Regions from separate parts of the Homo sapiens genome. Here region 2 is linked to region 1. The links come from fine-mapping of genetic effects on gene expression. A gene starts in region 1. The other region holds a variant in brackets. All regions are shown on one strand. Distances are from middle to middle.

What was found.
Region 2: its variant is fine-mapped to the expression of LARP6 in cerebellar hemisphere (GTEx, PIP 0.99).

Annotation. Positions count from the first base shown.
Region 1 is chr15:70,851,603-70,856,975 of GRCh38, forward strand. LARP6 (La ribonucleoprotein 6, translational regulator) reads right to left here and starts at 2,555. Exons shown (of 3, transcript NM_018357.4): 1 at 2,287-2,555. The coding sequence starts at 2,486. It also overlaps a transcript of LRRC49 not described here. RefSeq lists an enhancer at 1,944-2,445.
Region 2 is chr15:70,827,449-70,832,821 of GRCh38, forward strand. It overlaps LARP6 (La ribonucleoprotein 6, translational regulator), which reads right to left. Exons shown (of 3, transcript NM_018357.4): 3 at 1,682-5,373. The coding sequence ends at 4,604. Among named protein-coding and RNA genes, the nearest start is that of LARP6, 24 kb to the right of the region's middle. The variant G/A (reference allele first, on the strand shown) is at 2,470.

The DNA.
Region 1 (5,373 bases):
GATGATAGAGATACGCATTCAGTCAACAAACATGTCCTATGTGCTGGGTGCTGTGCTAGGTGCTGAAGATACAATGAACGAAGCAAGCATGGTCCTTGAATTCACCGAGCTCCTATTCCTGTGAGGGAGACACAATGATAGAATCACAATTGTGGAAGGTGCTAGGCATAAAATGTACAGAGTACTACAGCAACAGAGAAGAAAGGAAACACAGCCAGCTCTGGGGTGGGGATTGGGGGTGGTGGAGAAGAGGCAGCGAAGTTTTAAAGGCTGACTAGAAATCAGTCAATCAGAGGACCTAGAGGTGGGGGTGCAGAGGCATGTAGACACAAAATAGCCCCCTATGCTCAGGGAACTAGCTGGAATCACGGGAGCGTGAACTGTTGACAGCGTGAACTGTTGAGGCAATGGGCTGAGGAGATGATGTGAGTGGGTGTCACATCTTAATGAGCAGATTGAGGAATCTGGGTTTTCTCCTGTAGGCTCCAGGAGCTGAGAACATTCACATCGGGTGATGGCTGCTGCCATGCGAGCCTGGGTCCAAACAGGGGATAGTGTGGATCCTGTTCTTGGCTACATCTCCTCCTGCTCTGGGTGCCTGCCCACTGGGCTCTGTCAGCTCACCGAAGAACCCCAGGGATTTTCTGGGGTCAACTCTATGCCAGTGGGCAGCAGGAAGGGCTTCAGACTGAACACTTGCTGAGACTCAAGCCACGGGAGCTGGGCAGTTCTGGAGGAAGAGCAAGAGGGGTTCAGGCAAGAGGCCTACCCATACTGAGGCTTGGTTTCTCCTAGACCTCCATAGGGGATCTTTCCAGGCCTTAAACATAAGTAGAGCTTTAATCCTGGCTAATGATACAATCTCACAAATTTAGCCCTCAGGATAGGGATGGCTATTTGCCACTGCCACAGGAAAATAAAGTTATAAGGATAAACCACTTGGGGCTATTTTACATACTCTGATATTGTCTGACTAGGGGACTGCCTTCTCGAGACTGTGAGCTGTCAGTGACTAAGGGTTCATCATTTTTATGCTCTCGGTACTTGGCACAGAGCTAAACGAATCAGGCCTTGCATTATAAAGCACTGATCTATCTACTTTGTCATACACTATGGTCCAGCTTTCCTGCCCTACCCTGGTGGGCTGACTTTTCTCCCCTAACAACTGTCTCTACTGGTCTGCCCCGAATCTCTGGGTCCAGAAGTCTGACCCTTTAACCTGGGGAAGGGTGAGCCAGTAATAGAGAATGGCTCTGGGCCCAGTATTCTTCCACCCTTGAGTTGAGTATTCTCCCAGTGAAGTAGATATACGCTTGCCAGGACAATCCTGCAGAACCTTAACAGCTAAACGCCTGGGACAGGGTCCTAGAAGAAAGAGAGCTCCTAATAAGTGCCTGTTGGCATCCACCAGAATGTGCAAGTTCTGTCATTTCCCCACTCTCATGTCTATGTCTATGTTTTATCTCCTTTCAACAGCAGGAACAAAACACCAGTCCTTAAGGGCCTGGGCATTAGTGGACAGGAGCCAAGGTGCCTGAGGACAAAGCTCGGGACCCGGGACAAGGTTAAACAAGTGCCATAGCAGCTCCAAACTACCCAAAACCCAGGAACACCCCCCCCCCGCCCCCCGCAAGGCAGCAAGATGATGCAAACATAAAGGTCTGGTGGGAAAGGCTGTGTGAAAATGGGAATCCCCCAGGGCGGAGGAAGTAAAGCAGCAAGTCCTCTATCCGTCTCAAATTACCTTGAAATCCCACCTCCTGGAATCCCCCATCAGCAAGTGTCCGCTGTACCTGGCCTGCTACCACCTAAAGACTGAGCGCAGCCAGCAGGACTGGGAAAGGCAGGGCGATGATGGCAGTGAAGGGTAAGCGGGACCACTCGCAAGGGGAGGGGAAGGCGGGTAGGGATGGACTTTGCGGCGATGGGGAGGTGGTGTCTTGAGGGAGCCCACAGAGAAGAGGCCTCCTCCAGAGGAGGGGGTGGCTTGGATGGCCCGTGAAAGTCCTCCTCCTGGATCCCTGAACATCCCCACGTCCAGGCCCCTCAGATCCCGGCCGCCAGCCCTGGGAGCCTCGGTTGGGCGACGAAGCTGCGGGCTGGGGCACCGGCTGCCTCCACGGGCCGGTTCTGACTCAGGGGCTCGGCCCGGAGCTGCTTCCCCGGCGGCGGGGCTGACTCAACCCCCTCTGCCCGAGGAGTTGTCGCGCGCAGTCAGCGCCCCGAACTCGCGCGCGGCCCGGCGCCCCCTCGGGGCCCACCTCCCGGGCCAGCCGCCGCGCCTACCTGTGCCCGCGGCTCGGCTCCTCCTCGCTCGCGCTGCCCCAGCCGGGGCTGAGGTACCGGGCCGGGTCCCCGGCGCCCCGAGTCTCCGCCCCCTCCTCCTCGTCCTCCAACTCGTCCACGTCCTCGGCCTCCTGGATGGCGACGCGGATCTGCACCGCCGTCTTGGGCCCGGGCCGAGCCTCCCCGCCGGACTGGGCCATGGCTCGCGGGACTGCGGCGCCGCCGGGGTCCTCACGCCGCAAGGCCCAGCCAGCCGGTCGGCAGCGACTGCGACGAGGGGGCGGGGGCGGTGCGAGCGCGCCTGCCGCTCGGCCCAGGGGAGGGACAGGGGTCGCGGCGCCCCGCCCCGCGCCGCCGCCGCCGCCGCCGCCGCCGCCACCACCCCGACCGCTAGTGGAGCGCCCGCGCAGGCGGGGCCTCGGAGGTGGAGGGCGGCTTTCCGGAGCTCCTCCGACGGAGGCCCGTCCCGGAAGGATCCCCGCGACCCCCGATCACTCCCTCCGTCTTTTCGCCGCTGTGGGGCCCCAGCCCGAGAGGAGGTGTCAGGGCTCCCTCCTCCTGCGCCTTCTTTCACGGCGCCGCAGGGATGGGCGCAGCACAGCTGACTTCTGTTTGTGCTTGACTCCGGGGGTGGCAGCCAGAGACCACAGCTCCAGGGGCTTCCAGGCCTCCTGCGTGTCTCCCCCACTGGCCTGCCAAGATCAGAAAATTTCCATCGTTAGTCTCCTTGACATAATAACCACCCTAGACCGCGTCTTAGGAGGTCAGGGGCTTGGCTCCTGCCTTGCCCTGTATCAGTTTTTCTCCAAGTGTGGTTCCCAGACCAGGAGCATCAGCTGCACCGGGGAACTTGTTAGAAATTGAATTCTCAGGGCTCATCCAGACCTCCTGAATCAGAATCTATGATTCAGAACTTTGTGTTTTAACAAGGCCTCTAGGTGATGCTGAAGTTCACAAAAGTTCGAAAGCCGATGGCCTATAGAGTATGCCCTGCACATAGTATGCACTCAGATGTTTGTTGAATGAATAAAGGGAGCTATTGAAATGTCAGGATGTTCTAAAACACTGCCACCTTTTCACGTGTAACTTCAAATTGAGTTCCATCTCACCTCTCCAAATGTGACCCAGAAACTAGGGACAGGAGCATAGAAATGAATAAGACCGGCCGGGCGCAGTGGCTCAAGCCTGTAATCTCAGCACTTTGGGAGGCCCAGGCGGGCGGATCACGAGGTCAAGAGATCGAGACCATCCTGGCCAACATGGTGAAACCCTGTCTTTACTAAAAAAAATACAAAAATTAGCTGGACGTGGTGGCACGTGCCTGTAATCCCAGCTACTCGGGAGGCTGAGGCAGGAGAATCACTTGAACCTGGGAAGCAGAGGTTGTGGTGAGCCGAGATTGTGCCACTGCACTCCAGCCTGGGCAACAGAGCGAGACTCCGTCTCAAAAAAAAAAAAAAGAAAAAGAAAAAAAAAGAAAGAAGGAAAGAAGAAAAAGAAATGAATAAGACCTGAATCTGCTTTCATGTAGCACTTTATTTAGAGCCTTAAACATAATTTATCATATTAATTTGCCACACTGGGACCCCAAAACAACAGAACCCTGGACCAATACATTTGTTTTGATATAGAAAGACAAGTTAGGATAGGCTTAGGAAATGAGGTCTCCTGGAGGGCAGTGTCCTTGTAAAAGAACACCATGTATAGGGTCCTGGGTGTCTGGGCAGGGCTGGGGAGAGACCCAGGGGCCCAGCGAGGACAGCCCCTCTTCTTAAGGACACTAGAATCTGTGTCCCTTTCTTTGTCGGACCTCTGTTTTGATAGAAGAGGTCCTAAAATAAGTAAGTAAAGGAAGAGAGAGAGACCTTTGGTGCTATTGCTGTTTCTGCACCAGAACAGCTCACAGCCCTGGATCTGAGCTACTGGGAAAGGAAGAGGCAAGAGGCTGACAGTGTCTTTTTCCAGCCAGCTGTGCCTCCCTCCAGGGCTATAGATCCTCTGCAAACACCTGTGATGAGGCTCAGAAGGAAAGAGCTGCAGCAGCCACCATGCCTTCCAGTTTGATAATTTCGGTTCCTGAATTTCACAAAGTGATACCCATTATCTATCTCATTTAAGCCATCTCGTGTGGCAAAGACATCAGGGGTTGTTATCCTTACCCACAATGATGGCTCACATTCATCTCAGGTTTTATAGTTTATGAACAATTCATACATGTCTTTTCAGGGTTTCCAAATGCCTGATCATAAGAGTCCCCTGGGGACTTTTCTTAAAATATAGATTCTGAAAATACAGTTTGAAAACTGACAGTTGGTGGGTGAATCTGGGCTGTAGAAGCGTTTTACTTGGTGAGAGTTTTGAAAAAAAGAAATTGAATTTATATGTCCTTACATTCAAACATATCTGCCTATGTTGTTTCTGTTATTACTTATTTCTGACTCCTCATAAAGGAATTTTGGATCTAGAAAGAATGTCAGACATCATCCAGCTCGGAGCTGCTCCTGGTAGGGAATGGGTAGTCTGGCAGAGTACCCAAGAATGGGTACTCTTAGGGGTACCCATTAAGTCATAGCATAAATATGGGGCATCTTTCTGGGGTATCAATTTTACTTAGCTATTTGAGAGAACAGCCACAATGTATATATTAAAACAACTTGGAATATCTGTGAAATCAAATGCAAAACTTGCACGGAATGTTTAAGGCAACTCACATAAGTTTCTCATTTATAGTAGTTGGCTTAGAATAATGCCTAGAGGAGCGGAGGACAGAAACCCTCATTTGCACTAGGGGTATTTCATGGGAGAAGTCCAACTCGATCACGTTTGCAATGAGGAGAGTGAGTCCCAGTGAGGCTTAGAGGGAAGGGCCTCTTCTTCCACTTTGTTGCACCCGATTTTGTCTAGCAGGGAGCCTTCATCTAGGAACACTTGCTGATTTGCTTTGATTAGTCCTACCCACATACCCATCATTTGTGTCACTGGTGAAGAAACCAGGGCTTTTAAAGGGCTCCTTTCGATTTCCAGCTTATTCCTCCCCAGAGCCGTGGCAGGGGAAGGGAGGCCAGTCCCACCCAGGCCTGTCTTGAA
Region 2 (5,373 bases), 24 kb before region 1:
GGCATGCACCATCAGGCCCGGCTAATTTTTGTATTTTTAGTAGAGTCAGAGTTTCACCATGTTGGCCAGGCTGGTCTTGAACTGCTGACCTCAAGTGATCCACCTGCCTCGGCCTCCCAAAGTGCTGGGATTACAAGCATGAGCCACCACGCCTGGCCTGACTCATTTAATTCTAACAAATTGTATGAAATAGGAATTATTATTATCTACTATTATTATCTATTATTTATTGGAGAGGAAACTGAGACATAGGGAGGCTCAGTTGTTAGTCAAAGGTCACTTGGTCTTCAGAACCTGCATTCTTCACGTATTCCACATGGCCTCATCTCCAGTCTGGGTGACATGGGAGATGGTGATGCCACTGGCTGAGATGGGGAAGTCAGGAGAAGGAGCAGATGGGCATGTGTATGGAGCGGGAGGGAGGGTGGACAAAGTGGTGTTTTGGATATGTGTAGCGTGTAGATGTTCTGCCAGCACCTCAAGCGGAGATGGTCACCAGGCCTCGTGTCCCAGTGTGGAGAAGGAACTGGTTTTCATTAAAAATAATGAAACATCTGTAAAAATACCATTGGCTGAGTTTCTCAGTCAAGCTATTCAAGAAAGGCCGGCTATGCTAACAAACAGGAAGCCCATGCCCCAGCTGAAGATTTGGCCAGAGAGTTAGAAGGAGCAGGTTCATCAACAAGGTGCTCAGACCCCTGGAATGCCTACAAGAGACCAGGACTAAGCCTTGAGAAAGGAGGAGGGAATTAATGTGCTCCTCATTCCAGTGGCCAGAGCTTTCCAATGCTGCCTGCCTATTAGAATCACCTAGGAGATTTTATTTTTTATTTTTTAATTTTTTTTTGAGATGGAGTTTTGCTCTTGTTGCCCAGGCTGGAGTACAATGGCACGACTTCGGCTCACTGCAACCTCTGCCTCCCAGGTTCAAGCGATTCTCCTGCCTCAGCCTCCAGAGTAGCTGGGATTACAGGCACGCACCACCATGCCAGGCTAATTTTTGTATTTTTAGTAGAGATGGGGTTTCACCATGTTAGTCAGGCTGGTCTCGAACTCCTGACCTCAGATGATCCACCCGCTTTGGCATTCCAAAGTGCTGGGATTGCAGGCATGAGCCACCATGCCTGGCCAAGTTTTTTAATTTTTATTTTAATTTTATTTTTTTGAGACGGAGTCTCGCTCTGTCACCCAGGCTGGAGTGTGGTGGGACTATCTCAGCTCACTGCAACCTCTGCCTCCTGGGTTCAAGCAATTTTCCTGCCTCAGGCTCCTGAGTAGCTGGGATTACAGGCAAGAATCACCAGGAGTTTTAAAAAATACTCATGCCCTGGCCTCACCCCAGAACCAATTAAATCAGAATATCTCAGGGATGGCCAGAGGTAGTTGGTTGTTTTCTTTTGTTTTGTTTGAGACAGGGTCTCACTCTGTCACCCAGCCTGGGTGCAGTGGCATGATCTTGGCTCACTGCAGCCTTGACCTCCTGGGCTCAAGCAAGTCTCTCACCCCAGTCTCCCTAGCAGCTGGGACTACAGGCGAACATCGCCCTGCCCAGCTAATTTTTTATCTTTGTAGAGCCACAGTCTTGCTATGTGGCCTAGGCTGGTCTCAAACTCCTGGCCTCAAGCAACTCTAAAGTGCTGGGATTACAGGCATGAGCCACCATGCCTGGCCCATAGGCAGGTTTGTTTATTTTTATTTTTATTTTTTTGAGATGGAGTCTCATTCTGTTGCCCAGGCTGGAATGCAGCGGCGTGATCTCGGCTCACTGCAACCTCCGCCTCCCAGGTTCAAGCAATTCTCCTGCCTCCGCCTCCCAAGTAGCTGGGATTACAGGTGCGTGCCACCATGCCCGGCTAATTTTTTTGTATTTTTAGTAGAGACAGGGTTTTACCACATTAGCCAGGATAGTCTCAATCTCCTGACCTCATGATCTGCCCGCCTCAGTCTCCTGAAGTGCTGGGATTACAGGCGTGAGCCACCGTGCCCAGCCCCATAGGCAGTTTTTAAAAGCTCTTTAGGTGACTCTAATGTGAGGCCAGGGTTAAGAATTGCAGCAAAAGGAGGCTTGCCTTTGGAGGTGATGATCAGACAGCAGGATAAGTAGTGACTAATGCCTGCAAAGCACTTTTCCATTCAGAAAGCACTTGCACATATATGACCTTATTTAAGGAACATCTTCTTGTTATCCACTGGTTTGTGGGAAGAACTGTGAACCAATAAAATAAATGACTTGCTGAAGGTCACAGTTGCTTAGTAGAAAAGCCACGACTCGACCTCAGATCTGCTGACCCCCACTTCAGGGTTCTTTTATAATGTCACACAGGGCAATACGACCAAAGGAAGGCCAAGTTCATCTGTATTCACATGTAAAGGTGAGGGTGTAGGTATTTTTAAAAGTAACTATGATCCACGAGGGTTAATCTAAAAATAGAGCTGTGACTTGTGTAACAGGCATAATAGGGTGGAACA[G/A]CCTTGAATGTCACAGGCCAAGAAGAGCTGGTGAAGCCCAGATGGCCCGATGGCCAAGGAGCAGGTGGAGTGGCTGCAGGGAAGGAGCAGGCAGGGGGTGATGGGAGCAGAGTCAGGGAGGGAAGCATAGGGCGGGGCTGGAGGGGGCCCTGACATTGCCCAAGGTCAGGAGTCCTGGTGGTCTAGGCACAAGCCTTCAGGCTACCTACAGCTGGTAGTGCTGGAAATGGCAAATCCAGAACATTGCTGGAGGCATTTGCCAGTTAACACGAACTCTTCTGCATCTTAAGGGACAAAGCATCTTACTATCCAGATCACAATCACCTGCTAATTTGTATAGAGCCATATCATTTAGGATATACTATCTTTGTCCATTTTCACAAGTTTGGGATATTATTTTCCTACTTCAGCAGCTGCATGTGTGATACTGGCATAATAATTCCTTATGATGGACACTGAGAGTAAGTGAAATGTGTCTAACCCAATGCCTAGCACGTAGGAAGGTGCTGAATAAATATTAGCACCTTTTATGGTGGATTCTTTTTTGAATATGGATAGTAAAGATCAGAAATGTTGAGTACCACTTAGTGGTTAAACAGTGTGGGCTCCAAAGCCAGACCACTAGTTTCAAGCCCAACTCTACCAATTTAGCTGTTAAGCCTTAGACAAGTTAATTACCCAAGTAAAGTCTGTTTTTTTCTGGAATAAAATAGAGATAATACCTGAACATTTCTCTTGTAGTTTTTGGGCAGATTAAATGAGATAATGCATGGAAAGCTCTTAGCATAGTCCCTGGCACCTAATCACTGTTCAATAATTATTAACAAGCTCTATTAAATCCTGCCAAATAGCCAGAGCATAAGCCAACACTGGAATCTAGGCCAATGCTCTTTCTGCTACACCAAGGCAGCTCCTGATGATAACAAACATTAACCCAAGTGAGAAGGAAAGAGAGCTAACATTTATGGAGGGCCAGCTGCATTCCAGACATGGACATCGTAACAAAGCAATTCACAGGGAGATGATGAGGTTCACGGGGCTTAGTAACCTTCCCAAGGTCACAAAATAGTGAGAGATTGGGGGTCAAATGGACTGACCTCAAGTCCTGCAGCCTTTGTCCATCCAGTGGTTCTCCAGCGTGCATCAGAATCACCTGCAGCGTTTGTTAAAACCCAAATTCCAGGCCTTTCTCCCAGACTTTCTAATTCAGTGGGCCTAGGGTTGGCCTGAGAATCTGGATTTCTAATAAGTTCCCAGGTGAGATCAATGCTGTGGGTCCTGGACTGTACACCCTCAGTATACGCCAAGCTGCCTTTGCTCAGTAAAATTCCCTGTGATGAGACACCACTCAGGCTGCCAGAAGCCCAAGGAGAGCCCTGGGGCTGCCCTGGGGTACAGTGAGAAACCCTAAATGCCCTGACTTGATCACTATGCATTATAAACATGTAACAAAGTTTCTCATGTAGCCCATAAATGTGTACAAATAAAAAAATTTTTAAATGTTCTCTTAAAGAAAAGAAAGATGTCTCTGCTAAGCTCCTCAGGGCCTCATGACATACCACCCACAGCTCTGTCAGACAGGCACAGACTTTTGTCAGGCACAATCTATAACCTCAAAGTCAGCACTCCCAGTTGGGTGTTTTATTATTTATTTACTTGACAGGTAACATCGATTTGGTCCTACAAGACACCATGCTATAGGCTTAGCTACTTGCTGTTGCACAAGAGAACTTTCCTGAACTCTCAGGAAGCCCTTGCATGGCCTATCGAGGACAGCTCAGTCACTGAAGGGAAAAATTCCATACCAAAGAAGAGAGAAAAATTCCATACCAAAGAACAGACTTCCCCCAGGGAACCTCCGTCCTACAGCCCTTCAGGGCCATCACACTCACACACATCAGCCATCATCAAAATAGTGGCCATGCTGGGAAGAACAGGAGTCCTGAACTAGAAGGTGGTCTTCAAACCATGGCGTACCGATTTATGTATATTACAGATAGATAAATTAAGAGGTCTACATGAATAAAAAATCTCTCAAAGGGGAACGAATTCCATTCTGTCATGCCAGGTGTTTGTCAGAACCTTGAAAACGAAGGTGGTTTTCAGTGGAGCTTGTATTAAAAATAGAAGGTATTTATACACAGGCCCTGCTCCTCTCATGGCCATGAAATCCTCTGGTGTTGTCAGGACCCCTGGGCAACCTCAGCACCCCTACGGGTAGCCCATCTGCAGTCTGCATCTTCCGGGAGAGCAGGGGACTCGTACCGGGGCTTTTCTCCTGGGTCCCCATCTCGGCTTGGCGACGCCTCCGGACCCAGGGGCTGCCAGAGGGAGTGACGCTGCTGTCAGAGGAATAATCCATACACTTGCGGAAGATCTCAGGGCTGGTGCTGCAGTTCAGTCTACCTTCCTCCGCCAGTGGGGACTTTCTGGAAACGCCTTTGCGTTGGGCCAAGGGGCTGCTCCAAGGACTTGTGCACGGGGAGGCATTTGGACTCAGAAAGAGATTCTGGTGGCCAGACGGGCTGAGCTTGTTGGTGGCCGCGTGCCGTCGGCCCGCCATAGGGGATGTGGGGTTGCTCTCGGGGTCAGAGGAGCTGTTGGCAGAAGACTCATCACCCATGTACTGAAGCTCCTCGACTCTCTTGTTCAGGGACTTGTTCAGGTGGATGCTCGCAGTGGGCTCCTCGTCATGATTTTTGTCTTTGGCAGGTTTCTTTTTGGGTGGCTTCATACCAATCAGGACAGCTTTCATGTTCTCTTTGCCCTGAGATTCTGTGATCATGAACTCATGGGCTTTGATGGCTGCTTCCACCTCCTCGAACTCCACGATGGCGCACTCCTGGGTCCCCACTTGGCTGTAGCGGCTGCTGATCCTCCGGATGTCAGGGGGCAGCTCTCTCC